Linked DNA regions of Homo sapiens. The protein of the gene in region 1 purifies or fractionates together with the protein of each later gene. This does not show direct contact. Each region holds a gene or a part of one and is shown in the gene's direction. Other genes may lie near its edges. The genes, in order: GRB10, AIFM1, PPP2R2D, ANKRD28, CCNYL1, G3BP2 and DHX30.

What was found.
Region 2: the proteins of GRB10 (region 1) and AIFM1 purify together in Homo sapiens (affinity purification with mass spectrometry; one large-scale study listed by BioGRID and IntAct). This does not show direct contact.
Region 3: the proteins of GRB10 (region 1) and PPP2R2D purify together in Homo sapiens (affinity purification with mass spectrometry; 2 studies listed by BioGRID and IntAct, with this or other methods). This does not show direct contact.
Region 4: the proteins of GRB10 (region 1) and ANKRD28 purify together in Homo sapiens (affinity purification with mass spectrometry; one large-scale study listed by BioGRID and IntAct). This does not show direct contact.
Region 5: the proteins of GRB10 (region 1) and CCNYL1 purify together in Homo sapiens (affinity purification with mass spectrometry; one large-scale study listed by BioGRID and IntAct). This does not show direct contact.
Region 6: the proteins of GRB10 (region 1) and G3BP2 purify together in Homo sapiens (affinity purification with mass spectrometry; one large-scale study listed by BioGRID and IntAct). This does not show direct contact.
Region 7: the proteins of GRB10 (region 1) and DHX30 purify together in Homo sapiens (affinity purification with mass spectrometry; one large-scale study listed by BioGRID and IntAct). This does not show direct contact.

Annotation. Positions count from the first base shown.
Region 1 is NC_000007.14:50,670,827-50,675,035, reverse strand, and holds part of GRB10 (growth factor receptor-bound protein 10), read left to right. Parts: intron 1-377; coding exon 378-600; intron 601-4,209.
Region 2 is NC_000023.11:130,138,253-130,142,461, reverse strand, and holds part of AIFM1 (apoptosis-inducing factor 1, mitochondrial isoform AIF precursor), read left to right. Parts: intron 1-1,844; coding exon 1,845-1,929; intron 1,930-2,590; coding exon 2,591-2,667; intron 2,668-3,760; coding exon 3,761-3,869; intron 3,870-4,209. UniProt on the Homo sapiens protein: Functions both as NADH oxidoreductase and as regulator of apoptosis.
Region 3 is NC_000010.11:131,952,887-131,957,095, forward strand, and holds part of PPP2R2D (serine/threonine-protein phosphatase 2A 55 kDa regulatory subunit B delta isoform), read left to right. Parts: intron 1-2,797; coding exon 2,798-3,077; 3' UTR 3,078-4,209. UniProt on the Homo sapiens protein: Substrate-recognition subunit of protein phosphatase 2A (PP2A) that plays a key role in cell cycle by controlling mitosis entry and exit. Involved in chromosome clustering during late mitosis by mediating dephosphorylation of MKI67.
Region 4 is NC_000003.12:15,675,271-15,679,479, reverse strand, and holds part of ANKRD28 (serine/threonine-protein phosphatase 6 regulatory ankyrin repeat subunit A), read left to right. Parts: coding exon 1-4; intron 5-95; coding exon 96-179; intron 180-1,125; coding exon 1,126-1,271; intron 1,272-1,852; coding exon of another isoform or gene 1,853-1,866; exon of another isoform or gene 1,867-1,917; coding exon 1,918-2,000; intron 2,001-2,423; coding exon 2,424-2,506; coding exon of another isoform or gene 2,507-2,510; intron 2,511-3,490; coding exon 3,491-3,582; intron 3,583-4,209. UniProt on the Homo sapiens protein: Regulatory subunit of protein phosphatase 6 (PP6) that may be involved in the recognition of phosphoprotein substrates. Involved in the PP6-mediated dephosphorylation of NFKBIE opposing its degradation in response to TNF-alpha.
Region 5 is NC_000002.12:207,749,469-207,753,677, forward strand, and holds part of CCNYL1 (cyclin-Y-like protein 1), read left to right. Parts: intron 1-1,488; coding exon 1,489-1,651; intron 1,652-4,119; coding exon 4,120-4,209. UniProt on the Homo sapiens protein: Key regulator of Wnt signaling implicated in various biological processes including male fertility, embryonic neurogenesis and cortex development. Activates the cyclin-dependent kinase CDK16, and promotes sperm maturation.
Region 6 is NC_000004.12:75,663,063-75,667,271, reverse strand, and holds part of G3BP2 (ras GTPase-activating protein-binding protein 2), read left to right. Parts: intron 1-4,209.
Region 7 is NC_000003.12:47,837,282-47,841,490, forward strand, and holds part of DHX30 (ATP-dependent RNA helicase DHX30), read left to right. Parts: intron 1-3,595; coding exon 3,596-3,897; intron 3,898-4,209.

The DNA of each region.
Region 1 (4,209 bases):
CAGTCAGCTGAGTCCAGGCCAGTGGGGTCGTGCTATGCAGCTGTGGCTGTGTGCGGCCTACCGGAGGGGGTGGGGAGGAGAGAAGGGGGTGCTGAAGGGAGCTGAGCAGATGCTCTGAATGGCTTCTCCCTGGAGACAGGTAGAAATGCAGCCCAGCTCTAATGATTGAATTGTCTCTGGAATGTCAGTCATGATGAATACATGTAATATGCATGCTTCCATACAGTCATACTTGTCTTGGTGTTTCCCCTCTACCCCTTCCATAATATTTGAAAAATAGGATTGAGGTTTGGAACCTGATCACCAAGATGTACATTTGGGTTTGATTGCTCTCCATTGTTAAAGTTTCTTTTTTGCTCTTGCCTTTTTCTGTGCAGAGGATGATGTGGACCTGGAAGCCCTGGTGAACGATATGAATGCATCCCTGGAGAGCCTGTACTCGGCCTGCAGCATGCAGTCAGACACGGTGCCCCTCCTGCAGAATGGCCAGCATGCCCGCAGCCAGCCTCGGGCTTCAGGCCCTCCTCGGTCCATCCAGCCACAGGTGTCCCCGAGGCAGAGGGTGCAGCGCTCCCAGCCTGTGCACATCCTCGCTGTCAGGTAGGTCCAGGCCTTATGGGCAGAGCCTTCTCCAAGGATGAGAGCTGTCGGCAGGGACACTGCTCTCTGTGAGTTAAATGGTGTTGGGGGGAATAGTGTTGGTCTTGCAAAGTCAAGAGGCAGATACATTGCTTTGATGGGATAACGGATACACTGAGTGTGTGCAGTGTGCCGCCCTTGGGTTGAACTTTGTAGCCAGTTCAATTCCAGTAGTACCTTTTATTGAGTGCCTGCTATGTGCAAGGCACTGTGCTAGGTAGAGGGATATGCAGGAAAACCACCAGAGGAAAAATCTCTGGAAAGATTGGAAGAACAGCCATGGAGCTGATTGCATGCCCCAAGTCCTCACTACCCAGAGTAGGGACGGGAGGCTAGCAGCTACAGCACCCCCTGGAGCTTGTCGTGCAACCCCAGACCTCCCTCAGAGTTGCATTTTGCCACATTCCTCTGCTAATTCAGGGGTAGGCACATCTCTGTGGAAACAGGGAGGCTGGAGGGAGGAACGTGCTGGGGACGTTGAGGGAGGTTCCTGGGAGGTAGGATTTCTGAACGGATGTCAAAGGGTGATAGGAGCTCAGATAGATGGAGGCAGAGGTTTTGTGAGCAGAAGAGATGATGCAGATGGGGGCCGGTGCTGAAGCACTTTGTGTGCCTTTTTCAGGAGCCACGTGAGAAAGAGTTCTGGACAGGCGTGTGAAGGGGCTGGGTTTGGGTTTTGACACCAGCATTCTGGTTGCCAGGGGTCGTGGGGGCAGTGGTAGAGGGCAGCAGGGTTGGCAGAGCATGGCCGGTTTGGAAGTGGTCTCAGGAGCCCCCGGATGGGAGATGATTGTGCGCTGCCTGAGGATGAAGAAGGAGGGGGGATTTGAGCACGTTGCTGAGGAGGAGCAGCTGCGTTTTGCCAGCACTTGAATTTTGCCAGGGCTGTGAGGAGACAGAGAGTGTGTGGAGGGTGACTTGGATTTTGTCTCGAGTGCCTGGGAGGAGGGTGTCTAGAGAATGGTCATGTCGAAGGTGAAGGTGCTGAGAGTACCTTAGACATTCTGAATGAAGATCTTTGTAGAATCAAGCTGAGAGCCAGGGGCAGCCCTCAAGGATCCGCCTGTCTGCCCTGTCGCAGTCGGGATGGCGTGGGGCTCCGTGGGACCCTGCGTGCCTCTCTGGGCCTTTGCGGAGGATGTACAGCCATCTCTGCTGGGACTGCCCCTTGCCCTCACTGGCCTCTGTCAGGATGGGGTTCTGGTGCCTTCTGTCTCAGCACCCCATCTTCCGGGGAGCTCTGTTCATTTCCTGGGCTCTTCTTGCTTCTAGAAACTTCTGAGAGTTTTCTTTGTGGTCTGACATCTTGGGTCTTCCGCAGCCCAGATAATCACCTTGCCCCAGGTGGCAGCTGTTTCTTACGGAGGGGAGAGGGTGCAGCGGCCCTGGCGCCCGTGGTCAGCTGCCTCCCCAGCTTCCCACCCCGGCTTCCCCTCCGACTTCTCACTTTTTGTCATATTCATTGATGCTGAATGATGCCTGTCCCAGGGTTTGTTCAACTTTGCTCTTTGAAGCGTGACCCCTTGTACTTAGCTCCTGAGGAGTTAAGTCTGGTGGGAGAGCTGTTTTTCTCTTGGGAGCATCTCTTGGGAGCATCACAGTAGCCTTGGGGAGTGCCTGGGAATATGGAGGTGCAGTTGCATGGCGAAGGTGCCCGAGGGTGGGCTGGAAAGCCAGAAGGCCTGCCTCCCTGCTGGAGTAGTTGCCCAGGACCCTTGAACCTCGAGTTCTGGCTGAACTCGCCCATATGTGCCCCGGGACTACCTGCGCTAAGTCCCTGGGATGGAGGGGCAGGCTTGCTCTGTGGGACAGCAAAGCCCTCTCCCTACAGGGTCACAGGTGCTGTTCCTTGGGCCCAATGTCTTCTCTCTGGTGTCCTCTCAGATAAGTAGTTTTGTTTCTTACTTTCAGGTGGATTAAAAAAAAATGTGGAGATCAATCTGGAATCACCAAAGATTATTTTGTGAAGTGAGGCCATTTGCTGAGTGCTTACTGTGTGCAGATGCTGATGAGCTCCTCCTTGTTATCAGTGCCCTCGGAGGGAGGCAGTGTGGGTTACCCTCGCTTCCCAGCTGAGGAAACCGTGGCACAGCGGGGCGGTAACTGGGCTCACCACATCAGGTGGGAAGTGGCCATGGAGCAGGCTGCTGGGTACCAGAGGTCACGGAGCATGGTCCACGCTGCAGAGGAACTTACCGGGGGCTGCCATGCAACCCGAAGGGAGCTGGGGGGCAGGCAGGGTATGGGCAGAGGAGACACTTGGGAAGGGCAAGAAGGCTTTGCACATAGGAAAGCCGATGGGTGAGCCGATTCTGTACAGAGAAGGAACCCAGGCTTTTGAGAGTGCAAGGGCCACGCATGTGTTCTAGACAAACACAAGTGAGCCAAGGCACAGAGAAGAAGGACCTCGCCCCTCAGCTCTGCAGTTCCTGCCACCATCCCTGACATCCCTAAATCTCAGCACCCCTCTCCATAGTCACTGTCCCTTCTATTGTGAGCCTCTTTGGTGGGGATTTTTTGTCTTTGTGTGATATCCCTTAGTCTTGCCTTAGGCGATGTCTCTGAGCCGCTTTAAAGTCAACACAGGACTTTTTAAAATGCTCAAAACAACCCAATAAATAGAGAAGCTTTTGTGGACACTAAAACGTCAGATTATCTTTTTGGGGTGAAGTCACTGGCTAGAAGCCGTGGATGGGAAAGTGGCACTGGCCACCCGTTTTATCCATCTCCTCCTGTATGACAATGGCCAGACGTTTCAGTTGGACGCCTTGCCAAGGCTGAAGCTGTTATGGGAAGAGTGGGATTTGTTCACAGTAAAAATAAACTTTATGGCATGTCATCAAACCATTATAGGAACGGCTTTCCTGTATTTCGCAGCACTGATTCCCTTCATGCCATGTGAGTTCTCGTAATTTTAAATCCATGCATCATTTGCTGGTCTACGTGGGATAGTTAGCTGGATCTTCCTTTAAAAAATAGGGAAAGTTGGTAAAAGAGAAAAAGTAATACAGTCACAAAATGTGTTTCTGTAGTGGCAAATCTCCTGGGAAAGCTAACGGATTGTTGATTTTGTGAAATCGTAAAAATTGTCAAAAAAATTACTTGAGGACACAGCCTATGATGGGGGTTTCTGAGGTATGTTTAAACATGGGGAGGGATTGGAAATGCCGAGTGAAGATAATGTGAGGTTTGCTCCCCTCTCCTTGAAGGTAGGAGGCTGCAGACAGGGCCGCGTGGCCTCAGGAAGGGTGGAGGAGGCTGTGTGTCCAGGAGTGCCCTGGAGGTGTGGGCCAGAAGTTACTCTACAGAGGGGAGGTGCCAGACACTTGACATTCGCTTTGACTTTGAACTTGATTTCTCTGCTGTTCACAGTTGCTTCTGATTCGTCATACTGTGTGTGTGTTGCATAGTTGTGTGACAAGTGGGTTGTGCATTTTTCGGAGGAGGGAACAGATGCCCCTGGAGATGTGCCAGGAAAGTAGAGGTGGTGTGTGGATTCAGCGTGTGTTTCCAAGGTGTGTTTCTAATGTGGACACAGGCTTTGCGAGGACAGATACATGAAGCTATAAT
Region 2 (4,209 bases), on another chromosome or scaffold:
GGGAAGCTATGGAAGATCACATCTAATGGCTTCATTTGTTTTTGCAATACAATAGAACATAAGATGGTTATCTGAGAGCGAACACCGTGAGGGTTGAGTAGCGGGATTGGATTGAAGAGGGAGCTTACCAAGGACAAATCAAAGGAGGCTAAAGAAGCTGCTTATCCATCAGATCTCAGTTCATGTCATTGCCTCTAGAAAGCTTTACCCAACCCAACCTGACTAGATTGCACATGTCATATGTTCCCAGCGCTACCTGCACTGTTCTTACCACTTACATCACATTTGTCACTCTTGATTATTGTTAGTGCTTGTTAAATTGTCTTGGCCACTAAACTCTGAAAGCAGCAAGGATCACTGTCTCAACTTGATACATAGTAGGTGCTTAATTGAATGGTCTCAGCTAGTAAAGAGTGGTGCAAAGACTGGGGCCCTATTCTCTCTGACTCCAAAGCTCAAGCTCTTAACCATAAGAAGGAGTAGGGTGCAAGGGAATTAAAGGTACTGGCAAAAGAACAGTTTGGGTGTTCTACCATTGGCCCAAATTAGTTAGAATGGAGCAGCTAGTCAAATAAACAGAGAAAATTGAAAGCAAGCATAGGAGACAGACTGAGCGAAAGCTGAAGGGATGGAAAATTGTGACCAACAAGTAGAATAATTGAGGTAGGAGGAGAGGTTTAGGAGATAACAAGATGAGGAAAAGTATGAGCCAGGTTCCAAGGTCTTCAGTGAATCAGGAGGAGTAGCCAGGAGGTGGCTCAAAACAGTGATTCGTAGGAATATAGGACTCCTCTGATGTCCCTCAGAAGAGAATGAAAGTACAAGAATCTGGAAGCAGCAGACCAGTAACCTCAAGAAGCTTGCAGAATGCCAACACCTCCTCCTGGCCTTGTGATGTGGAGTGTGGGGGAACGAACAGCCTCTATGTGTAAGCTCTCCTTAAGAGAGAGCCAAGTTTCCGTGAAGGCTACAAGTTGGAGAAAGCATTCTGTAAAAATGTTGTAGATGTAGGAGACTTATTAATAAAGTAATAATAAGTAATTCCAAACAGCCATATAAGAAAGGCTGTTCCGATTCTCCTTTTCCACACATGGGTCAGGGCTTTGGGACTGTCATGACTTGCTCTAATGTTGCCTGCCTTCTCATTGCCAATTTCCAACATATGACTGCCTAAAAAAACTGGGTACCAGAAACTGTGGTTCCCATGATTACTTGGATATGGTTTCTTAAGGATCGCTTTAGGTCAAGAACTCATTCTTCTTATTGGGCTGACAACTTTTTTTGTTTTTGTTTTTGTTTGTTTTTGTTGTTGTGGTTTTGGGGTTTTTTTGTTTTGTTTTGTTTTTGAGACAGAATCTTGCTCTGTTGCCCAGGCTGGAGTGCAGTGGCATGATCTCGGCTCACTGCAACCTCTGCCTCCCAGGTTCAAGCGATTCTCCTGCCTCAGCCTCCCCAGTAGCTGGGACCACAGGCATATGCCGCCACACCTGGCCAATTTTTGTATTTTTAGTAGAGACGGGGTTTCGCCATGTTGGCCAGGCTGGTCTCAAACTCGTGGCCTCAGTGATCTGCCTGCCTCAGCCTCCCAAAGTGTTGGGATTACAGGCATGAGTCACTGTGCCTGTCCTGGGCTGACAACTTCTTATTGACCTGGAGTTTTGGGGTGGTGATGGAAATGTTCTGAAATCAGATAGTGGTGATGGTGGCACAACCTTGTGAATATACTGAAATCCACAGAATTCCACACTTTAAAATGGTGAATTTGATGTGAATTATATCTCAATAAAACTTTTTCAATGCTAATTCATCTCTACCTCTTTTGTGTATGTGTGTGACTGTACCAGGTAGTACAGCTGGATGTGAGAGACAACATGGTGAAACTTAATGATGGCTCTCAAATAACCTATGAAAAGTGCTTGATTGCAACAGGTGAGCATTTCTGGAGATGGCTTTCTTCCCTGATACAGCTCATTCAAGTTTTAGAGTCCAGCCTTCTCTATGGAAGGCATTACTACTTAAGAAAATGGAAACCCAGACTCTCTGAAGTGAGTGTCTTCTCTTGGTACAAAAGCTGGCTGTGTCAAAGCATCCTGGATCACCAGCCCTTCTGGATGATCCTTGCTGTTCTCCCGGTAGAGGCATGAAGAAGTTGCCCTTTTTTCTCTCCCTGCTTAACCCTCACCCTGTGCCCTGTGCCTTGAAAGTGATGTCGTTTGTGGCTTCATTGCCAGTTGCAATCAGAAACCAAGAGAGGAGACAGAAGCAATTTATCAAACCCATGTAGCTATGCTAGCTGGCAAATCCTCATGAGAAACTAGAAGAGAACATGGAAGCCAAAAGTAAGGCCTTTTGGCCACCTAGGGGCAGGGTGTACCCCTTGAAGACAGACTCTCAAATCTGCTTCTCAAAGGAAACTGACAGAAAGCCTGCTGTGAGGCAAGCTGAAGGCAAACAAAGCCTTGGTATCCTATCCTGTTGTTGCCGCCATGGTGCTAAGTGAAGAGGGCTCCACCTTTGTGTGGTGGAGGGAGTATTGTTTGGGCTGGCTCCTGCTTGTTGGGCTAAAGGGTTTTCCTTCTCTTATTTCCAGGAGGTACTCCAAGAAGTCTGTCTGCCATTGATAGGGCTGGAGCAGAGGTGAAGAGTAGAACAACGCTTTTCAGAAAGGTAATTGTCTGCTTTAGTGTTTTCCTTGTGTTGTTTTTGAAGAAGTAGTATAATCTTGCAGTCCCCAAGTGCCCACCCGGGACTTGGGAGATCCAAGTTCTATTTATGGCTCTTCTCCAGACTTGTTATCTGGCCTTGAACAAGTCACTTCCTCTCTCTGCACCTCAGATACCTCACTCAAGGGTTTTAAGCTCCTAGGGAAAAAATGGAGTGTTTGTATTGCTTGCAATAGATCCTTCTGATTGCTCTTCCATAGTTGTTTTTTCCTGATGTGTTTGATTCATTGGAACCCCTTACAGCCTCTTGGCATTTTTCATTGCAAGTGCTGTGTAGAGACTTCTGAGAAAAAAGTTAAGAGTACCTAAATAAAAAGCAAGGAGGTGTTCTGCTTCTTAACACTGTGCTTATAAAAACTGCTGTCATTTTTCAGGGATAAGATTTGTCCTGTCTTTTTTTTTTTTTCGAGACTGAATCTCGCTCTATCACCCAGGCTGGAGTGCGGTGGTGCGATCTTGGCTCACTGCAACCTCCGCCTCCCGGGTTCAAGCGATTCTTGTGCCTCAGCCTTCCAAGTAGCTAGAATTACAGGCATGTGCCACCACGACCGGCTAATTTTTTTTTTTTTTGTATTTTTAGTAGGGACGTTTTACCCTGTTGGCCAGGCTGTGTACTGTCTTTTAAGTTCTTCCTAGAACAAGGCTTGTCAGCCTCTGCAGTATTGGCATTTTGAGCTGGATAATTGTAGTGGGGGCTGTCTTATGCCATTGTAGTATGTTAGCAGCATCCTGGCCTCTGCACACTAAATGCTGGGAGCACCTACTTGCCCTGACAACCAAAAATGTCTTCAGATATTGCCAGATGTCCTCCTGGGGAAGATAGGGACAAAACTGCCACCAATTGAGAACCACTGTTTATAGAAGGAATTTTACCATGAAGAAATAAATTTGCATTAATAACATAGAAGTTATAATTGAGTCACTTTATACAAGGAGAAAATTTACTTTTGCCAAAGATTTAGAAGAAACTACTTTCTAGTATTATTATCCTATGCCCCTTTTGGAAATTAATGGACTAAACTGATGTGATCCTGCAGATTGGAGACTTTAGAAGCTTGGAGAAGATTTCACGGGAAGTCAAATCAATTACGATTATCGGTGGGGGCTTCCTTGGTAGCGAACTGGCCTGTGCTCTTGGCAGAAAGGGTGAGTATTGAGGAGTGACCTTGATTTTCTTTCTCTAGTCTTATATAGCTTTTCTGTGAATCCCAGAGATGTGTTTGGCAGGATCAGTAGGAAGAGTTTAATTAAGGTTTATTTATTTATTTTTTTTTGAGATGGAGTCTCGCTCTGTCACCCAGGCTGGAGTGCAGTGGCGCGATCTCGGCTCACTGCAAGCTCCGCTTCCCGGGTTCAGGCCATTCTCCTGCCTCAGCCTCCCGAGTAGCTGGGACTACAGGCGCCTGTAACCACGCCTGGCTAATTTTTTGTATTTTTAGTAGAGATGGGGTTTCACCGTGTTAGCCAGGACTGTCTCGATCTCCTG
Region 3 (4,209 bases), on another chromosome or scaffold:
GCGGGTGTGTGTGGGGGGTTCACTGTCTTAGCAGTGACTTGCGGGGGGGGTCCCTGTCTTATCAGTGACTTGCGAGTGTGCGGGGGTTCACTGTCTTAGTGACTTGCGGGTGTGCAGGGGGTTCACTGTCTTAGTGACTTGCGGGTGTGCAGGGGGTTTCACTGTCTTAGCAGTGACTTGCGGGTGTGTGTGGGAGGTTCACTGTCTTAGCAGTGACTTGCGGGGGTTCCCTGTCTTAGCAGTGACTTGCAGGTTTGCGGGGGTTCACTGTCTTAGTGACTTGCGGGTGTGCGGGGGGTTTCACTGTCTTAGCAGTGACTTGCGGTTGTGTGTGGGGGGGTTCACTGTCTTAGCAGTGACTTGCGGGGGGGTCCCTGTCTTAGCAGTGACTTGCAGGTATGCGGGGGTTCACTGTCTTAGTGACTTGCAGGTGTGCGGGGGTTCACTGTCTTAGTGACTTCCAGTTGTGCGGGGGGTTCACTTAGCAGTGACTTGCAGGTGTGTGGGGGGTTCACTGTCTTAGCAGTGACTTGCGGGGGGTCCCTGTCTTAGCAGTGACTTGCAGGTGTGCGGGGGTTCACTGTCTTAGTGACTTGTGGGTGTGCGGGGGGTTCACTTAGTGACTTGCAGGTGTGCAGGGGGTTTCACTGTCTTAGCAGTGACTTGTGGTTGTGTGTGTGGGGGTCACTGTCTTAGCAGTGACTTGCGGGTATGCGGGGGTTCATTGTCTTAGTGACTTGCGGGTGTGCAGGGGTTCACTGTCTTAGTGACTTCCAAGTGTGCGGGGGGTTCACTGTCTTAGCAGTGACTTGCGGGTGTGTGGGGGGGTCACTGTCTTAGTGACTTGCTGGTGTGCGGGGGTTCACTGTCTTAGTGACTTGCGAGTGTGCGGGGGGTTCACTGTCTTAGCAGTGACTTGCGGGTACATGGATAGTCACTGTATTTTTTATTCCTCTTGATATATTTCAAATATTGCAAAATACCCTTAGATTACATATCCCCAAGAACATCTAAAAGCGTTCCCAGTAACATTTGCTTAGTCCATTCACTCTCAAAAACACGCCAGTCTTCCTACCTGGAAACTTCTGTTGAGGGATGCGATGAAGGGGAGTGAGGCGTTTCAGTGCTGCCTCAGCCCAATCCTGATTCTCCGTGTGGCAGCGCCTTCTTGTGTTCTAGGTCGCCCCACAGAACCAGTTATGTGCTTACGCCTGTGTCTCTGTCTGTGCTGTTCCCTTCCTGGGCCAGCACCAGGCTGCTGGGCAGCGCCCTTGTTTGCAGTGTGGAAACACCCACTCTGGGGCTGGCACTATCTGTCGAGAATTTAAAAGTGATCATAAATCTGTATGAAAGCTGATGTGCTTTTCGTTATTACCATGCACCAGCAATTCCAGTCAGTGTCGGCCATACATCATCTGTCGTCTGTGTTCTGAATAATGGTTACTGTTGAGTTTTAATAACATAAATGTAAGCTTCAGATTCACACATTCTTATTACTTACCCTTTCGTAAACATTGTGTTTTATGTGGAAACTAATTTGGGGAACCCCCAGTCAATGGCCCTCACGTGCCAACTTGGCTGCATACCCCTGTTCCAAGACCACGTGCACAGCTTGGCATTGCTGGAGGGCGCTGGGCACACCTTGTGTCTCCCGCCTCTGTGGCGCTGTGGGCTCCTGGATGGAAGCAGGAGATGGGAAATAAACATGGATCGCTGAATGCAGTTTCTCTTCTCTGAGTTCGTCTTTTTTTTTTTTTTTTCCCCTGCTTTGAAGTTTTAGACAAGGTCAGTCAGACACTAGGTATTTGCCAGCAGCCAGGGTCAGTGCTGGGCCATGGAAGGGAAGCGGCCCGCTTCTTTCTCATGGCACCTTGAAGACGCGCCAGCGTGAAAGGCCTCTCACCGCGCATGACCATGGGGGCAGGACGTGAGGGCGCGGGTTAGTGTCAAAATAGGAAGAGGAGGCGAGCTTCAAGGACGGCTGGAGAAACCAGAAGGGCATTGTTTGAACACATCTTTCATCAGAAACTGGACTCATGAAGCCATGGGTCAAATCATGGCAGCGTTTGCATCATTCAGCTATTTTTCTGTCATTTTTGTAGAAAATGTAAGATTGCAGAGGTTTTTACCAGTATTATGAAGTTATATCATGAGGATGTGTGCGGTAGTAGAATTTTTCGACAGCAGAGACATTTGAAAGCCATTACAGTTGATCTTGAAGAAACAAAAGCATGGACGGTATTGTATTGTCTGGAATGTGTGTGAAATGCAGTTGTTCTAAAATTCTGCCACACTTTGCCCAGTGGATTTTTACTATTTCTATCCGTTGCCTCATTTGAAAGAAACTTTTTGAAATTAATAGAAAAGCAGTTTAACTCCAAAGAAACATTGACAGATATGACTAGTAACTGTTGAACATGATAAGGATTATGTTCAGGTCATTATGGATCATTGACAAATTGCAGAACATAAGGCTTAAAAATAAACTGTGCTGTTATTCATGAGTGAGATAAATAGGTGGGGTTGTTTCAAAAAATACACTAATGTTAAAAGTGTGACTCCATTATTTTGTTTCTCCTGTGACATGGATTCTTACTGACATGATTATAGATAAAGCTCGGTACACATTTTCACTGCATTTCTCTTCTGCCCATTGTGATTGATCATTCCTGATTTCTGAAAGTAACTGGGTTGTGGGGGAGGGTGGCGTGCGCTGTGCACCCCAGGGGTGGGGTCTGAGTCCTTGCTGCCGCTCCCCCCACTGAGGAGTGCTGCTGTCTGCTCTTGTTTTGAACAGCGCCATCATGACCGGGTCCTATAACAACTTCTTCAGGATGTTTGATAGAGACACGCGGAGGGATGTGACCCTGGAGGCCTCGAGAGAGAGCAGCAAACCGCGCGCCAGCCTCAAACCCCGGAAGGTGTGTACGGGGGGTAAGCGGAGGAAAGACGAGATCAGTGTGGACAGTCTGGACTTCAACAAGAAGATCCTGCACACAGCCTGGCACCCCGTGGACAATGTCATTGCCGTGGCTGCCACCAATAACTTGTACATATTCCAGGACAAAATCAACTAGAGACGCGAACGTGAGGACCAAGTCTTGTCTTGCATAGTTAAGCCGGACATTTTTCTGTCAGAGAAAAGGCATCATTGTCCGCTCCATTAAGAACAGTGACGCACCTGCTACTTCCCTTCACAGACACAGGAGAAAGCCGCCTCCGCTGGAGGCCCGGTGTGGTTCCGCCTCGGCGAGGCGCGAGACAGGCGCTGCTGCTCACGTGGAGACGCTCTCGAAGCAGAGTTGACGGACACTGCTCCCAAAAGGTCATTACTCAGAATAAATGTATTTATTTCAGTCCGAGCCTTCCTTTCCAATTTATAGACCAAAAAATTAACATCCAAGAGAAAAGTTATTGTCAGATACCGCTCTTTCTCCAACTTTCCCTCTTTCTCTGCCATCACACTTGGGCCTTCACTGCAGCGTGGTGTGGCCACCGTCCGTGTCCTCTCGGCCTTCCTCCGAGTCCAGGTGGACTCTGTGGATGTGTGGATGTGGCCCGAGCAGGCTCAGGCGGCCCCACTCACCCACAGCATCCGCCGCCACCCCTTCGGGTGTGAGCGCTCAATAAAAACAACACACTATAAAGTGTTTTTAAATCCAAACAGAAGTATTGTCTTTTTATTTAATTTTATTGCATAGAATGAAGTTATGCAGGGTTCTTCTTTGGAACTAACTGTTTGAGAAATGTGTGTCCTTCTTTGGCAGCGTGGGGGTATGTGTGCAGCATTTCTGTCCCCAAGCTGCTGCCCGCTGTGTTTCTGTAGAAGTAGCCCATCAGATACACCAGGTAAGGTCTGGGAAAAGCCAGAACCGAGGCCACCTCTGAGAAAGAAAATTGCAAGGAAGAACCAAAATTGCTGCCATCCAGTAAGCCTGGTTTAAAGTAGCTTCAAATTCACTACAGTTGAAGAAATACGTGCTTGCTTTCTAAGGCTTTTGAAAAAGCACTTTGGGGAAAGTATACTTTTTAAACATTGCTAAAATTACATGCATGCTAAATTTCATCCTGCATTTCAAGCCAGCAAAATTAAGCAATTTTAATTACACGATGCCACCAGTACGTTGGTTTATTTTCAAAGTAGGATCTTTGATACCAGAAATCAAGATTTTCCAAGACAAATAATACAGAGCTGTACCAATGCTGAGT
Region 4 (4,209 bases), on another chromosome or scaffold:
CCGTGTAAGTAAAGCCAGAATGAATCAGATTTGGTTTGAGTGTTTTAAGAAATACACCATTGCTGTGAGAATGATCACCTTGTTACCTTACACAGGATAAATGACAACGAAGGTGCTGCTGAGATGTTAATTGATACATTAGGTGCCAGCATTGTGAACGCCACAGATTCAAAAGGAAGGTAGGAATTCAACTATGTATTAAATAGTTTTAGCCAGGCACAGTGGCTCATGCCTATAATCCTAACAATCTGGGAGGCTGAAGTGGGAGGATGACTTGAAGCCAGGAGTTTAAGACCAGCCTGGTCAACATAGCAAGACCTGCATCTCTACCAAAAAAAAAAAAAGTGCATGATGATGCATGCCTGTGATCCCAGCTGTTCAGGAGGCTGAGGCAGGAGGATCACTTGAGCCCAGGAGTTTGAGGCAACAGTGAGCTATGATTGCACCACTGCATTCCAGCCTGGGTGACAGAGTGAGATCCCGTCTGGGCCCTACCCCCCAAAAAGGTTTTATTTTCAATAAGAAATAAATTTTAACTACTGGCTGGTGTGAGAGAATTTACAGAAAACCCATTATTAAAAGTTGATTTTTATATTTGCGAGTATAAATTGTTATAAGATCTCAATTATTTTTACATTATAAAAGGTTTTTCTATTTATAGATTTTAGGAAGTTTTCCTCCTTTAAACTATTTTAACATGTAAATATTTTTCCCTCTCTTTCGAATTTGTTTCCCAAAGATTATTGTTAACAAAGTTAACAGTTTTCTAAATGGGAATAAAGCCTGGAAAAAAGTCCAGCAGTTGTAATAAGTGGTGGTATTCAGATTAGGATTTATTTCTTTCAAAATTTCCTTTAATGATGTAATGTTATTTTAGCAATTTTGTAATTAATCTTTACTTCATACTAGTTCTAGTTTAATTAAAGCCTTCTGTATTATTGAAAGTACAAATTTCTATGAGAGAAATTAGTAAGCTCCATTGAGCCTATTTGTTTGTGTACAGGCAGTGCTTTTGTAGCCTAATATGTAAACCCTTAAAAACAGCATGTCACAAATTAAAGAATATTTTTCCAGCATATATAACATTCAAATTTAGTCATATATTTCAATTTTTCTTTATCACAGAACTCCTCTCCATGCAGCCGCCTTCACAGACCATGTAGAGTGTTTACAGCTGCTGCTCAGCCATAATGCTCAAGTCAATTCTGTGGACTCTACAGGGAAAACACCTCTTATGATGGCTGCAGAAAATGGACAAACAAATACAGTTGGTAAAGAAACTTCTTTAAAATTGTATTTTCCTAAGTATGTGTATCACTTATGTATAACTTAGATCCCAAGACTTCTGACTTCAACTAGTTATCTTACCACTCCTAAGACTTAAAACCTTTTACCTGTTTGCAATCCACATTTTCATTTAGGGATACAATGTTTTAGTTTGCCCTGACTATTGAGGAGTCTACTTTACCATGGCCTTATAACATAGTGGTTAAGAACACTGGCTGTGGAGTTGGATTGCCTGAATGTGAGTCCTAGATCTTTCAGCTAAATGACCTTATGCCTCAGTTTTCTCATTTATAAAATGAGAAAAATAACAGTATCTACTTGGTGTGTTGTTGTGAGGGTTAAATAAATTACTTTAAATCCAGAGCATATAAAACAGTATTTAAAATTTAGTGCACAGTCACAAAATAAATGTTAATTGCCATTGTTAGAGTGTGTGACTTATACAACAATATAATTGTCTCATACAATTATATGAAGATATATATGTTATATATTACAATATTTTTCTTGTACTTAAGTTTTTGTGAGAGGGACTTTTTTGCTTTGTATCTTCATTTCTCTACAGTGAGTTATTGGTAATCTAAGAAACATGTTCATAAACATAAGAATTGATGCACTTTTTCCTCCCAGAGATGCTGGTTAGCAGTGCTAGTGCAGAACTGACTTTACAAGATAACAGTAAAAATACTGCCCTCCATTTGGCTTGTAGCAAGGTATGTATACATCTTAAGAATATGTTTCCATTGTTAATATTAACAGTGACCTTAAAAGTTTTTTGACTTCACTAAAATGAACAACTCAGGACCAAACCTCTCTAATGATCACTGGTATTAGATTTCTTGAACAAAATTGACTTATAAGGCACCATGGCGTATCAAAGTCTCCAGTAAGCCAAATAAGTTTTGGAACACAAGTCTAAGCATAATTATCCTCTTTCCTTAATCTTAATTTTGTCCTCTTCTCCTACCCTCACTCCCAAGATGTGTTTGGGCAAATATTAAGATATTAGCCAGGAAAATTCATGGTATATGTATGGTGTTGTACATAATATATGGACTAGGATTGCAGATTGTTGGGTGTATAAATGTATCTTTAATGGTGCTCAAGTTTTTATAACTTATCTGCCACAATTATAGGGTCATGAAACTAGTGCCTTGTTAATACTGGAAAAGATAACAGATAGAAACCTCATCAATGCAACCAACGCAGCCTTGCAAACGTGAGTACTGTCAGTATCTAGTATAAACTTTGTGACCTATAATTATAAAAATGATAAATGGATTTTTTTAAACATGTGACTATTGGAATAGGTTTCATTAGTCATAGAAGCAATTTTAATAGTTTTACAACTGTCAAAACTCATTTCTAAAATGATCACAACTAAAAGCCATATTATTTAAAATGCTTTTGAACTGAAATTTTATTATAACATTGACAATAATGTATTTTTTTCCTTAATCCACCTACCTAATTTTCTGAAGGAAAGTAGTACTATTTTGTGTATTCTGTGGAAATCAACTGTAATAATATGTTACTTGAAACTAACAATAAATGAGGTAAGAAGCTTTATGTGTGTCTGTAAGCCAATAAGGTTTCTTAAAGAATCAAAATTTTTAATAATGTGAGCAGCCAACCTCCAGATAGACTGACAGAGATCTTACATCAGTGTCTCTCATTGTCCCTTGCTATTCCATTTTGAGGTTTAGTAAAGATAAAAATCTTAGAATATTGTTGCCCGTTCTGGGATTAGTCAGATCCCTTGAAGGTCCAAAAATTAGTCATGATGCTTGTAAGCTGTTTTCAAAGCCTATTAGAATTTATGCTACTGCAGTTTACAGTTTTTAATGTATAGTCTGTATCTTTACCAGCCTCATTCCTTAACAACGGAGGAATGCAATTTCAATGGTAAAATGTTTTTAAACATTGAAAAGAAAAGTAACAAAAGGATTGGGTGAAGGTAGGGACCTGTCGATGGGACCTATGGCTGAGCTTGATGCCGAGCTACACGTTGACAAGGTGTGACAGTGCACTGCACAGAGGTTCTGCTCTCCCTGCCCCCATCTTTGTTATTAGGACTAGGTTTCTCGAGTTTGTACCTCTTGGTCTTCACAAGTTGACAAAAATGCTCTTTGACAGCCAGGTGTGTATGTGTATGTGCATGCACATGCACATATGTGTACATGTATCATGTTTTTTCCCCTAGACCTCTGCATGTTGCTGCCCGAAATGGGCTAACAATGGTGGTTCAGGAACTTTTGGGAAAAGGAGCAAGTGTGCTTGCAGTAGATGAAAATGGTAAGTTGGTTCTATATTCTCTTCCCTTAACCTAGAGCTTTTATCTTTTGATCCATATTTGAAGAGAAATAAACTTGGATATTTTTTATTGGTCAAAGAGGAGAGCTAAAGTTAATATTGAAGAGTAGTTTGTGGCAAAGGAATAAGGGCAAAAGAAATAGGAAAAGTTATCTAACAGATGTACTTCCGAATTCCTATATCATCTGTTACAGCAAAGTTAGTATTTACTGTTTATACTTGCCACTTTCTGTTGTTTTAGTAGCCAAAGATTTTGTTCTTTCAGCAAATATGTATCAAGATCCTAGTTAAGTACTAATATTCTTATTTAAAGCCAGTGTTTCTACTCATGCACTAGATCCTGTCCCCTTTTGCCTACTTCATAATGTCAGTTTGACAGTTCTCTTTTGTGTCCTGGAGTAACATTTTTCGCTCTCTTCCTGTATTATTCCTCTCAGTATATAAACATTAGTTCCCTCATCCTTAAAAAATAATTTATAAATCTCACTGCTCCTGCCAGCTACTGCCATATTTCTCTGTCCCCTTTTGCAGCAAAACTACTCTCTTGCTGTCCGCAGTTATTCCTCTCATTCTTCCATTCTTTTGTTGTTGTTGTTGTTGTTTGTTTTT
Region 5 (4,209 bases), on another chromosome or scaffold:
GTATGCTATTCAGCCACCTAGCCATTTAAAAAAAAACAAAAAACCTAGAAGATGCATATTCTGTAAGCATAATGCTTTTCTTCAGTGATTAAACCTCTATTAATATGTGTGTTAATCCTATGAAGTACTATATTTCTACACAGTTAAAATGTATTAGTGGAAAAAATATAAAAGGGATTGTGAAGTGCATTTATTGCTGTAGTAAATTAAGTCCTGGTTAGCTGATTATCAAAACATTATCTGATTTACATTTCTATAGGCTTATGGACATATGAACAGGAAATTAATTTTGGAAGTAGGTTCAGTTGGGTTTTTAAGCTCAGCAAATGAGAAAACCACATCTCTGCTCATATTAACTGCTCTCCATACAGGAGATCATCAAGCATTTGTTGACTTACCCAGTGGATAAAATATTAAAACTTTGAAACCAAGAAACCAAATATGTTGTTTAGGTATTTATCATTTTTATACAGTTAACTCCTTATAGGGATTACTGTGAAAGTGGTTAAGATTTTCTCTAGTTTTATGTTTATTTGCTTAAGCATTTGGCAAGGGCAGCTGTGTGGTCATGTAGCCGACTACTACTCCCAGCCCTTTCCTCTCCCATTGCATTCAGCTCACTCCTACATTCTGTTCTGACCAGGACGGTAGATACTGAGCACCTCAGGGTTTCATTCCCAACTCAGAAGAAACACTGAGTTTTTAAGTCCAGTGACCTACCATAAGTCATATCATAAAATGGGTTTAGTCTAGCCAAGACATCCACCTTTGATCTTTCTGCCTTCCAAAGTTTAAAGAGTATCCTCACCCTGTCATAGTGACAATTTCTCACCTTCATAATATTAAAGTGAGCAGAAACTTGCATTATGCCCTTTGACATAGCCTCATGCGCCGGGACAGGGGGAGGGGATTCCCTTCCCCTGTAATGTAGCTTGCTTATTTATTTATTTGAGATGAATCCTTGTTGCCTCAAGAGTTTTTCCCCCTCAGAGATAATAGCAGTGGCTCTTGATGGATCCATTTGTTGCCGTGGTGATATGCCTACTCCTTTTGTTGGTGCTTCTCTACTTCAATAAGCCCCTTCCTGTTATCAGCCTGGTGAAAATGTCTGCAAGTTCTTCAGAGCTAATAAACAGCATACATCATTCCTTTCATCTGATCACTATAGTGGGGCCTTGTGAGTGAGCGTGAAGTATGAATTGTACAGCTGCACTAATGGAACTCTGAAGAATGAGGCCCGAGTCAGCAGCACAAGTGCATCGGAGGCCGTAACCTTCAACCTTCATCCCAGTTCCAGAGTGCTGGGATGCAGAAGGGACCACAAGTAACTGTACCTTATGTGAACATTAGTATGTTAATACAACTGGGTAGCCTATATTTTAAAATAGAGTTTAGAGCCATTCTAGTCTCTTAGAATGATATTTTTGAAGATAGCCCAGTTGACTGACATTGTCCTGTGCTGGTTCTGTTGTGTTCTTCCTCCTCCAGGAATGAAATGGAAAGGCATTTTCTGGAGCTTCTTCAGTTTAATATTAATGTTCCTGCCAGTGTTTATGCCAAATACTACTTTGACCTTCGCTCCTTAGCAGATGACAACAACCTGAATTTTCTATTTGCTCCTCTTAGCAAAGAAAGAGCACAGAACCTAGAGGTAAGGCTATGAAGTCACTAAGTGAGGTTTTCCATCAGCCACCAAAGCCAACATCTGTGACTAAATCATATTAAGTAGTGATTAGGAAAATGGAAAGCTTTAAAATTAACTAACACTGAAGAGCTTATTAGCCCTTTGGCGTCAGATTTCCTGTGTCTTGTATGGTTTATACAAGGATCAACATTATTTAAAAATTATACATATTAACTCTTCTGTGACCATAATTCAGAATATTTTAAATCAAATTTAATCTGTTGTTAATGAGGTTTCCTTTTGAACTTCTACCCTTTCACATAACCATACATGAATAATTTTTTTAGCTGGGCACTGTGGCTCATGTCTGTAATCCCAGCACTTTGGGAGGCTGAGGTGGGCAGATCACTTGAGGTCAGGAGTTCAAGACCAGCCTGGCGAACATGGTGAAACCCTGTCCCTACTAAAAATACACACACAGGCCGGGCGCGGTGGCTTACGCCTGTAAGCCCAGCACTTTGGGAGGCCGAGGAGGGCAGATCACCTGAGGTTGGGAGTTCAAGACCAGCCTGACCAACATGGAGAAACCCCGTCTCTACTAAAAATACAAAATTAGCCGGCCGTGGTGGCGCATGCCTGTAATCCCAGCTACTCGGGAGGCTGAGGCAGGAGAATCGCTTGAACCCGGGAGGCGGAGGTTGTGGTGAGCTGAAATCGTGCCATTGCACTCCAGCCTGGGCAACAAGAGCGAAACTCCATCTCAAAAAAAAAAAAAAAAAGTACACACACACAAAAATACAGGCATGGGGGTGCATGCCTGTAATCCCAGCTACTTGGGAGGCTGAGGCATGAGCATCGCTTGAACCTGGGAGGCGGAGGTTGCAGTGAGCCAAGATTGCACCGCTGCACTCTAGCCTAGGTGACGGAGTGAGATTGTGTCTCCAAAAAAAAAAAATTTTTTCTTTGCGACTGTATTCCTAATTTTATCTACATACATAATTCACTTGCCACTCTTGACTGTCTTACTTACTGTTTGCAAATTCATGTCATGGTTTATGTATCACAGTGCAGTCCCATGAGTTTTTTAGACAAAGGATTAGTGGATAAGCCAAGAGACCTATACCCTTCACTGTATAGGATGCAGGTGTTTCAAATGCTGGATGTAAGTGGTAGGCATGGTGGCTCACACCTGTAATTCCAGCATTTTGGGAGGCCGAGGCAGGTGGATCACTTGAGATCAGGACTTCAAGACCAGCCTTACCAACACAGAGAAACCCGGTCTCTACTAAAAATTCAAAAATTAGCCGGGCGTGGTGGCAGACGCCCAGTTACTCAGGAGGCTGAGGCATGAGAATTGCTTGAACCCGGGAGGCGGAGGCTGCAGTGAGCCGAGATCATGCCACTGCACTCCAGCCTGGGCGATAGAGCAAGACCCTTGTCTCAAAAAAAAAAAAATAATAATGTAGGAAGTACATGGGTTTTTAATAGAAATGGTAACTTTATGGGGCAAAGTAATATTTATGGCTTATGACTCTTGGTGAGTATACAGCAGAATTACAACTGAAATGGACACATATTTTAAACTAACACTTTCTGTGGTACCTTGGTGGTACTTTAGAATAATATGTATTTCTAGGCTGGGCTCAGTGGCACATGCCTGAGAGTGGCTCATGCCTCAGAGGCTCATTCCTCCCAGCACTTTGGGAGGCCGAGGCAGGCGGGATCACCTGAGGTCAGGAGTTTGAGACCAGCCTGGCCAACATGGTGAAACCCTGTCTCTACTAAAAATACAAAAAATTAGCTGGGTATGGTGGCACATGCCTGTAATCCTAGCTACTTGGGAGGCTGAGGCAGGAGAATCGCTTGAACCTGGGAGATAGAGGTTGCAATGAGCTGAGATCACTCCAGCCTGGGCAACGAGCGAAACTCTGCCTCAAAAAAAAAAAAGAAAAAAATAATAATATGTATTTCTACCATAATTAACGTGCATGTGAAGTAATACCTTTTGGCGCGTCAGTCATCAGACCGCTCATATGTTCCAGTATAGTCCAGCACACACCTGCCTCATTAAAATGTGCTTTGAGTATATAATAGCTAATAAGGATTGGGTAGAATTTGAATAGCTGAATAAACATTTTTTTGCACAAGTGTACGTTTGTTATATTTAAGGAATAAGTTAACAGATAACAGATGCTATTGCTGTTAGGAGCCCTATCACAATACCTTTGATATCTTTGGGAATCCAGTTTTTTAATAATATAATAAATTCCCCTTTGTTCTCTGGGAATCTAACCATAGCCCTTAAAGGATATTACCTTGGTGAACTGTCAGGAAGTAGTGTCCCCACAACCTGGCAGTGTAAAACTCAGCCAAAGTAGCTGTAACTGTGAACTATCTAAAGGAGTCCACATGTGTGGCTTTCACAATGGTGCTCTTTCAAAGGCGGGAACCCTTTTTAAAATTGTACCTGTTTTCTATTTGATTGACTTTCCTAGGCTATTTCTAGATTGTGTGAAGACAAAGACTTGTGTAGAGCCGCTATGAGAAGGTCTTTCAGTGCTGATAACTTCATTGGTATTCAGCGC
Region 6 (4,209 bases), on another chromosome or scaffold:
TGTTACCCAGGTTTGAGTGCGGTGGTGCCATCTTGGCTCGCTGCAGCCTTGACTTCCCGGGCTCAGGCATTCCTCCCACCTCAGCTTCCCGAGTAGCTGGAGCTACGCTTGCACACTACCACGCCCCGCTAATTTTTTGTATTTTTTAGTAGAGACGGGGTTTTGCCATGTTGCCTGGGCTGGTCTCAAACACCTGAGCTCAAGCGATTCACCCACTTTGGCCTCCCAAAATATTGGGATTACAGGTGTGAGCCACTGCACCAGGCCTTCTTGGCTATCTTTGTAGAACTGTATAGTCTTGTAGGCTTGACCGGGGATTTCTTCTCAATTTGTAAACTAGGAAATCGAGATCCAGTAAGGTCATGAGTTTTTCATGGCCATGGATAAGATAGTTGAAACCTTTTACTCCCATATTCAGAATTTTGTTTCGTTTTGTTAACTTTTTTTAAGAAATGGAAGGTCCCAGATCTAGAAATGGATTACCTGTAAGATGATTTGCTATGAATAATAAAAATGGCACAATTCTTTCTTCTTGTAATCACTTTTATTCTGAAAGTGTAATTTGGCTTTTTTCCTTTTTCTCAACCTTCTTACGTACACTGCATGAATTATAAATACGAACTTTATATTACTTACTCAATTTTCATAGTCTTATTTCCTGCAATACCCAAACCACGTTGTTTGATGGTTGATCTCTAGTAGTCATTTTCTGGTTGATTTCTATCAATTATATTTTGGCTCTCTAAATTCTGAGTCACTTCAAATCGGAGTTATGGTTAAAGAAGTAACTGATGTAATTAGTTGAAACACTGTTCTCTCAGTAAATCTTGATTTTGTTTTACCATTCCTTTGGGAGCCTCCTCTGCACCTTAAAAGCTCAGCTTTCTATATAACCTGTTATATGCCTGTTTAGATTTTACCAGATTAGCATTGCCTTACTTATTTACCATTTGAAGTTAACTTTTCAAGTTACTGCCTTCCAATAGTTCTAAGTATTAATTTATTGAGTATTGATTAATCAAATATTACTTCTACTGCCCTTCCCTGTCTCTCTGTTCTAAATTGATGGTATGTTGGCCATTATACTTCAGTGACCATGTAGATAGTGGGCAATTTGAAGCTTTTTTTGAACCTTGTTACAACAAATCTTTAGAGCATTTTGACCTGTGATATTATATATGTATTATGTACCATTTTATTTTGGTTTGAGAAACAAATATGTAAGTGACAAAAATGATAGATCAGTATGTACTCTATGAATATGATGGGAAATTTGGGATAAATGACAACAGTGTTCCTGTAGAAAATCTGGAAATCCAGAGAGAAGAAAACAATTCCCAAACCCGGAAATTCCTAATAGTATTTCTGTCACTATCAATTTAAAGAAAACTATTTTGTGTATAGTTATTTTGTTCAGAGAGTAATGTAGTATTTTCCCATGTGTTAGTATTATTTTACCATCAGTTTTTATGGTGTTAAAATACATATAATTTCCATGTTTTAGTTATCTTGTTAAATTTTACCAGGTAAGTCTACTGTTCTTTACCCACCCTCATTATTCAAAATAAAAATGTTAGTTGCTTAGCTGTGTGTGTGTGTGTGTGTGTGTGTGTGTTTGTTTGTGTGTTTGTGTGTGTGTGTGTGTTTGTGTGTTTGTGACTACAGGTGTGCACCACCATGTCTGGCTAATTTTAGATGGGGTTTTGCCTTGTTGCCCAGGCTGGTCTTCAGCTCCTAAGCTCAAGCAGTCTGCCCACTTCGACGTCCCAAAGTGCTGGGATTACAGGCGTGAGCCACAGCCCAGTGCTTTGTTACTTTAAATGTAGCATATGTGAGTCCTTTTTGCACTAGGGTTGTTACCCTTATTGGGAGTTTTAAGTTTTCTGGAAAATCAATGACACCTGAAATGGCAGTATTTGGATCTGCTCTTTGTGAATTAACTATTTTTGAAAGCAAGTGAGGCATTATAAAAAATTTTAAACAGATTTGGGGATTTTTGTAAATCAAGTTTGAGAGTTTAAGAAGGACAGTTAGAGGAGGGATAGTTTGTTGGAAAGGAAGAAACAAGGAACCTAAAAACATAATGTAGAAGTTGAATTGTGAGTCACTAGAATTATGTAAAGCTACACTCTATCTGTAAGCTCTACTATAGTTGGTATTTGATTTTTATTAAAAACAGCATCACAATTTTAATGACCTATGCAGGGCTGTCTCTGAAATTGTTTTAGTTATTTAAAGTAAACACACATGGAAATTGACTTTTTATTTTTAATTTTTTGTATAGAGATGGGGTCTCTCTGTTGGCCAGGCTGGTCTTGAACTCCTGGCCTCAAGCTTTCCTGCCACCTCCACCTCCCAAAGTGCTGGGATTACAGGCATGATCCACTGTGCCAGCCTGCAGTGTTTTTTTGTCTGTTTGTTTTGAGACAGAGTCTTACTCAGTTGCCCAGGCTGGAGTGCAGTGGTGTGATCGCGGCTCACTGCAACCTTTGTCCCCCAGGTTAAAGTGATTTTTTGTGCCTCAGTCTCCTGAGTAGCTGAGATTACAGGTGTGTGCCATCAGCTCTGCTAATTATTTGTATTTTTAGTAGAGATGGGGTTTCACCATCTTGGTCAGGCTGGTCTCGAACTCCTGATCTCAAATGATCCTCCCAGCTCAACCTGAAGTTTAAGCAGGACTTTATTTATTTATTGAGATGGAGCCTCACTCTGTTGTTGCCCAGGCTGCAGTGCAGAGGCATGATCTTGGCCCACTACAAACTCTGCCTCCTGGGATCAAGCGATTCTCCTGCCTCAGCTTCCCAAGTAGCTGGGACTACAGGCGCCAGCCACCACGCCTGGCAAATTTTTGTATTTTACTAGAGAAGGGGTTTTACCATTTTGGCCAGGCTGGTCTCGAACTCCTGACCTCAGGCGATCTGCCCACCTTGGCCTCCTGAAGTGCTGGGATTACAGGCGTCAGCCACCGCACCTGGCTAAGCAGGAATTTCAACTGCATCCTGATTTACCCAGTAGATACATGCTTAGGAATTATGATTTTTTTTTTTTAGTACTTTTAAGTTTAATAGGTCTTTTTAAAATAAAACAGGTGGCTGGGCACGGTGGCTCACGCCTGTAATCCCAGCACTTTGGGAGGCTGAGGCAGGTGGATCACGAGGTCAGGAGTTCAAGACCAGTCTGGCTAACATGGTGAAACCCCGTCTCTACTAATAATACAAAAATTAGCCAGGTGTGGTGACACGTGCCTGTAGTCCCAGCTACTCGGGAGGCTGAGGCAAGAGAATTGCTCTGCCGGGAGGCAGAGGTTGCAGTGAGCCAAGATCGTACCACTGGACTCCAGCCTGGGCAACAGAGCAAGACTCCATCTCAAAAATAAAATAGGTTATATTTCATATTTTTATTTTTTATTTTTTTGAGACGAGTCTCGCTCTGTCGCCCAGGCTGGAGTGCACTGGCGCGATCTTGGTTCACTGCAACCTCCGCCTCCCGGGTTCAAGCAATTCTCTGCCTCAGCCTCCGGAGTGGCTGGGATTACAGGCACCCACCACCACACCTGGCTAATTTTTTTATTTTTAGTAGAGATGGGGTTTCACCATCTTGGCCAGGCTGGTCTTGAACTCCTGCCCTTGTGATCCACCCGCCTTGCCTCCCAAAGTGCTGGGATTACAGGTGTGAGCCACCGTACCTGGCCCTGGGGATTATATTCCTACAGTAAATGATAAGTTTTGTTTGTGGCTCACACCTGAAGTGAGAGGATCACTTGAGGCCAGGAGTTCGAGACCAGTCAGGGCATTGTAGCCAGACCTCGTCTCTGCTAAAAATAAAAATTAAAAAATTTAAAAAAATTAGCCAGGTGCATGCTTATAGTCCCAGCCACTCAGGAGATTTAGCGGGGAGGATCGCTTGAGCCTGAGCCTGAGCCTGGCAGTTGAGGCTGCAGTGAGCCATGATTGCACCACTAAACTCCAGCCTAGGTGACAGAGCGAGACCCTGTCTCAGAAGACAAAAATAGGAAATTGTATTTATTTCATGTTAGTTGTTCTTGTTGGTTTTAACTTTGAGGCACATTATCATAGCACCTAACCCATTCTGTTAAGTTTCCAGTTTGCTTGTTTATATTTCTTGACAGACTATAAACTCCTTGAGGGCTAGAGACTTATCTTGTTCACTAGAGTATTTCATTTATTATAAACAGTATCTCATGTAGTT
Region 7 (4,209 bases), on another chromosome or scaffold:
CTTCACTGTCACAGGGGCAGAATGATTTGATCCTGTGGCTGCCAGGGCTTCTGACTAGTGGTAATTGATAGAATGACACAGCCAAGTTTGCTTTTAGGGAAAATCACTGACAGCAGTAGTTTTTGGCAAGACCAGAGACAGGGACACTGGATGGAAGAGAATACCAGCGGCAGCTGTGGAGGAGGTTTCTTCAACGGTATTAGAGGGCCAGGCATGAGGGCCTGTAATCCTAGCACTTTGGGAGGCTGAGGCGGGTGGATCACAAGGTCAGGAGCTCGAGAGCAGCCTGGCCGACATGGTGAAACCCCATCTCTACTAAAAATACAAAAATTAGCCGGGCCTGGTGGCGTACGCCTGTAATCCCAGCTACACAGGAAGCTGAGGCAGGAGAATCGCTTGAACCTGGCAGGCAGAGGTTGCAGTGAGCCGAGATGATGCCATTGCACTCCAGCCTGGGTGACAGAGTGAGACTCTGTCTCTAAAAAGGAACAACAACAAAAAGGTATTAGAGAAGTTGCACGGACAGCTCCTGGACAGTTGAGGAGGTGGGAGGGAGAATGGGTTGGAGGGGCAGCATGCGCCAGCAGGGGGAGCTGTGGACGAGCAATGGGTTGGCGCCTAGGTTATGGCAAGAACAGTGGCTGGTGGATGTTGGTACAGCTCAGGACCGGTGTGGGAGCATGGCCAGGACCAGCAGTGAGCCTGTGGGGACGAGATCCTCTGGTCTAGTGAAAGAGTGGTTGCAAAGGCAGGGGGAGAACGGTGCTGTCCTGCTGGGGAAGCCAGGCCAAGGAGGGATGCTTGTATTGCTGCTCTGTGGAACCAGAGGCATTCTTGTCAGAAGGGAGGCGGTGACGCAAAAGTGTGGCAGCTGAGCCTTGGATCGGGCCCTGCCCCAAGGGTTCGCGAATGTGTGTGTGGCATACCTTGGCCCCATCGTCTGTCCCATAATCCTGCGGTTTTCACGCGTCTATTCTTAATAGACAGACTTTAGAATTGGTTTGTCAAATGCTTAATAAGAAGCCTCTGCAGACTTTGATTGGAATTGTGTTCAATTTATGGATTAATTTAAGAGGTTTTTGTCTCCTCACACATAAAAGTTCTATCATCCAGGAACATATATCTCCATGGATTTACATCCTTTTGCCAAGTTGTGTGCTTAGTCCATACCTTTCTGACCCACCTTAGTTCACCTTAGGTAGGTGATGGTTTTTGTTACTGTTGTGAATAGAATTTTTAAAATTAAATTTAATTATCTCAAAAACCCAAGGAGAAAGTTTTATGAAGGCAGGCCATGGTCACTCTCCAGCTTGTCATGAGTTGGGTGGGATTGAAAGCTCACTGTAGAGAGGTTCCTGGCCCGTGGCCCGTGCTGTCTGCTGTCACATGGCCCTGATGTTCACCTGACAGGCCTTGTTCTTGCTGTCCCGCAGACTTTGTCGCCTTTACCACTCCCAGTGGCAGCTCCTGCAACCTGTGCTTTCTTTGCAGTTGCTCCTGTTCTCCCAGCTGCTCACTCATCTCACCCACGTCTTTGTTCCTTAGACCCTGGCCATCTGCATTTCTCTTCTGCTGCTTAGATTCCTTGTTTGTTTGTTTGTTTGTTTTTGGAGATAGGGTCTTGCTCTGTCACCCAGGCTGGAGTTCAGTGGTGTGATCATGGCTCACTGCAGCCTCGATCTGTAGGCCTCAAGTGATCCTCTTGCCTCAGCCTCCCAAGTCTCTGGGACTACAGGCACATACCACCACCCCTGGCTAACTGCCTCTTATATTCCGAACTGCTTGAGGGCAAGGACCAGGTCTTGTCTCTCCTGATGATGCTTAGGTGGCCAACATGTTGCTGCGTACATGCTAGAGACTTAGGCAATGTTTAATTTATATTTTCTGTAGAAAAGCATGAAGCTATAACACATTTAAAATCATATTTTTGTATAAATAGCTTTAACATTTCAAGTTATTTCTCTAGAATGTATTCCTAACATAGGATTCTTATATTCTCTTTTTTTTTTTTTTTTTTTTGAGACGGAGTTTCGCCGGAGGTTTGCTCTTGTTACCCAGGCTGGAGTGCAATGGTGCGATCTCAGCTCACCGCAACCTCTGCCTCCCAGGTTCAAGTGATTCTCCTGCCTCAGCCTCCCAAGTAGCTGGAATTACAGGCATGCACCACCATGCCCAGCTGATTTTGTGTTTTTAGTAGAGACGGGGTTTCTCCATATTGGTCAGGCTGGTCTCAAACTCCTGACCTCAGGTGATCCGCCCACCTCGGCCTCCCAAAGTGCTGGGATTACATGCGTGAGCCACCGTGCCCAGCCTTCAGGATTCTTATATTCTTATATATAACTTCTTATAACAGAAGTTGTATCCGTTTCATGGTGTGGGCTACATAGGTTTTTTTGTTTGTTTGTTTGTTTGTTTTTTTGTGGAGTCTCTATTGCCCAGGCTGGAGTGCAGCAGCCCCATCTCAGCTCACTGCAACCACTGCCTCCCAGGTTCAAGCGATTCTCCTGTCTCAGCCCCCTGAGTAGCTGAGATTACAGGTGCCCACCACCACGCCCGGCTAATTTTTGTATTTTTAGGAGGATGGGGTTTCGCCATGTTGGCCAGGCTGGTCTCCAACTCCTGACCTCGAGTAGTCCACCTGCCTGGGCCTCCCAGAGTTCTGGGATTACAGGTGTGAGCCACTGTGCCCGTCTGGCTACGTATTTTTTTTTCTTTTCTTTTCTTTTTTTTTTTGAGACGGAATCTTGCTCTGTCGCCCAGGTTGGAGTGCAGTGCCATGATCTTGGCTCACTGCAAGCTCCGCCTCCCAGGTTCACGCCATTCTCCTGCCTCAGCCTCCCAAGTAGCTGGGACTACAGGCACTCGCCACCACGCCTGGCTAATTTTTTTGTATTTTTAGTAGAGACAGGGTTTCACCGTGTTGGCCAGGATGGTCTCGATCTCCTGACGTCATGATCCGCCCGTCTCGGCCTCCCAAAGTGCTGGGATTACAGGTGTGAGCCACCGCACCCGGCCCTACGTACTTTTTAATTGCTGTATTTACTGAAGCTTCCTAGATCATTATGTGAATGTATCTTCTTGGGCTTGGTGCGGTGGCTCATGTCTGTAATCCTAGCACTTTGGGAGGCCAAGGCGGGCGGATCTGTTGGGTCCAGGAGTTCAAGACCATCCTGGGCAACATGGTGAAGCCCTGTTGCTACAAAAATTCGCTGGGCGTTGTGGTGCATGCCTTTAGTCCCAGTTACTTTGGAAGTTGAGGTGGGAGGGTCACCTGAGCCCAGGAGGCAGAGGTTGTAGTGAGCCGTGATTGTGCCACTGCACTCCAGTCTGGGTGACAGAGCGAGACCCTGTGTCAAAAAAACAAAAAACAAACAGTATCTTCTGCTCACCCATTGCCATGTGGGGTTATTTGTTTGCATCAAAGCTAGGCATCTTTGAGAGTTCCATGCCCAGTTCTGGACTAGGGGCTGAAGTGGGTAAACAGATGAAAAACCACGGCTGCACAACACAACTTAACGGTGTAGCTGGACACGGACCAGGCCGACTGAGGTGTAAAGATGGTATCAATCCTTAAAACGTCCCTTTTCCCCTCCAGGGTTGGGGTCTGCTAGGTCCCCGGAATGAGTTGTTTGACGCAGCCAAATACCGAGTGCTAGCTGATCGCTTTGGCTCCCCTGCCGACAGCTGGTGGCGTCCGGAACCCACCATGCCCCCTACTTCCTGGCGGCAGCTGAATCCAGAGAGTATTCGACCAGGGGGACCTGGGGGCCTATCCCGCTCTTTAGGCCGGGAAGAAGAGGAGGACGAGGAGGAAGAGCTAGAAGAAGGGACCATAGATGTTACCGACTTCTTGTCCATGACCCAGCAGGATTCCCACGCTCCACTCAGGGACTCAAGGTACAGATGGAGGATGGGGATGCAGCAGAGGCTGGCTGTGCCTTGACACGGGGATGGGCGAATGTTCTCTGCTAGCTTTCTCTGAGATGGGAGCGCCCCTGCCTCACATTTCAGCCTGTGTGCCCCATCACTCAGTGTGTGTCTGCCCATTCTTGGGGGACAGCCAGCTGTGGTCTTCTATGTGGCTGGGCTTTTGCAGAACAGCAGCATGGAGCCCCTGCTCTCTGCTATCTTATCTGTGTGAGGGAATGGAGGGAGCAGTCCCCATGCAGTGTGGCTGTGGGAGGAGCAGAGACGCCCGGTTTCCCATCC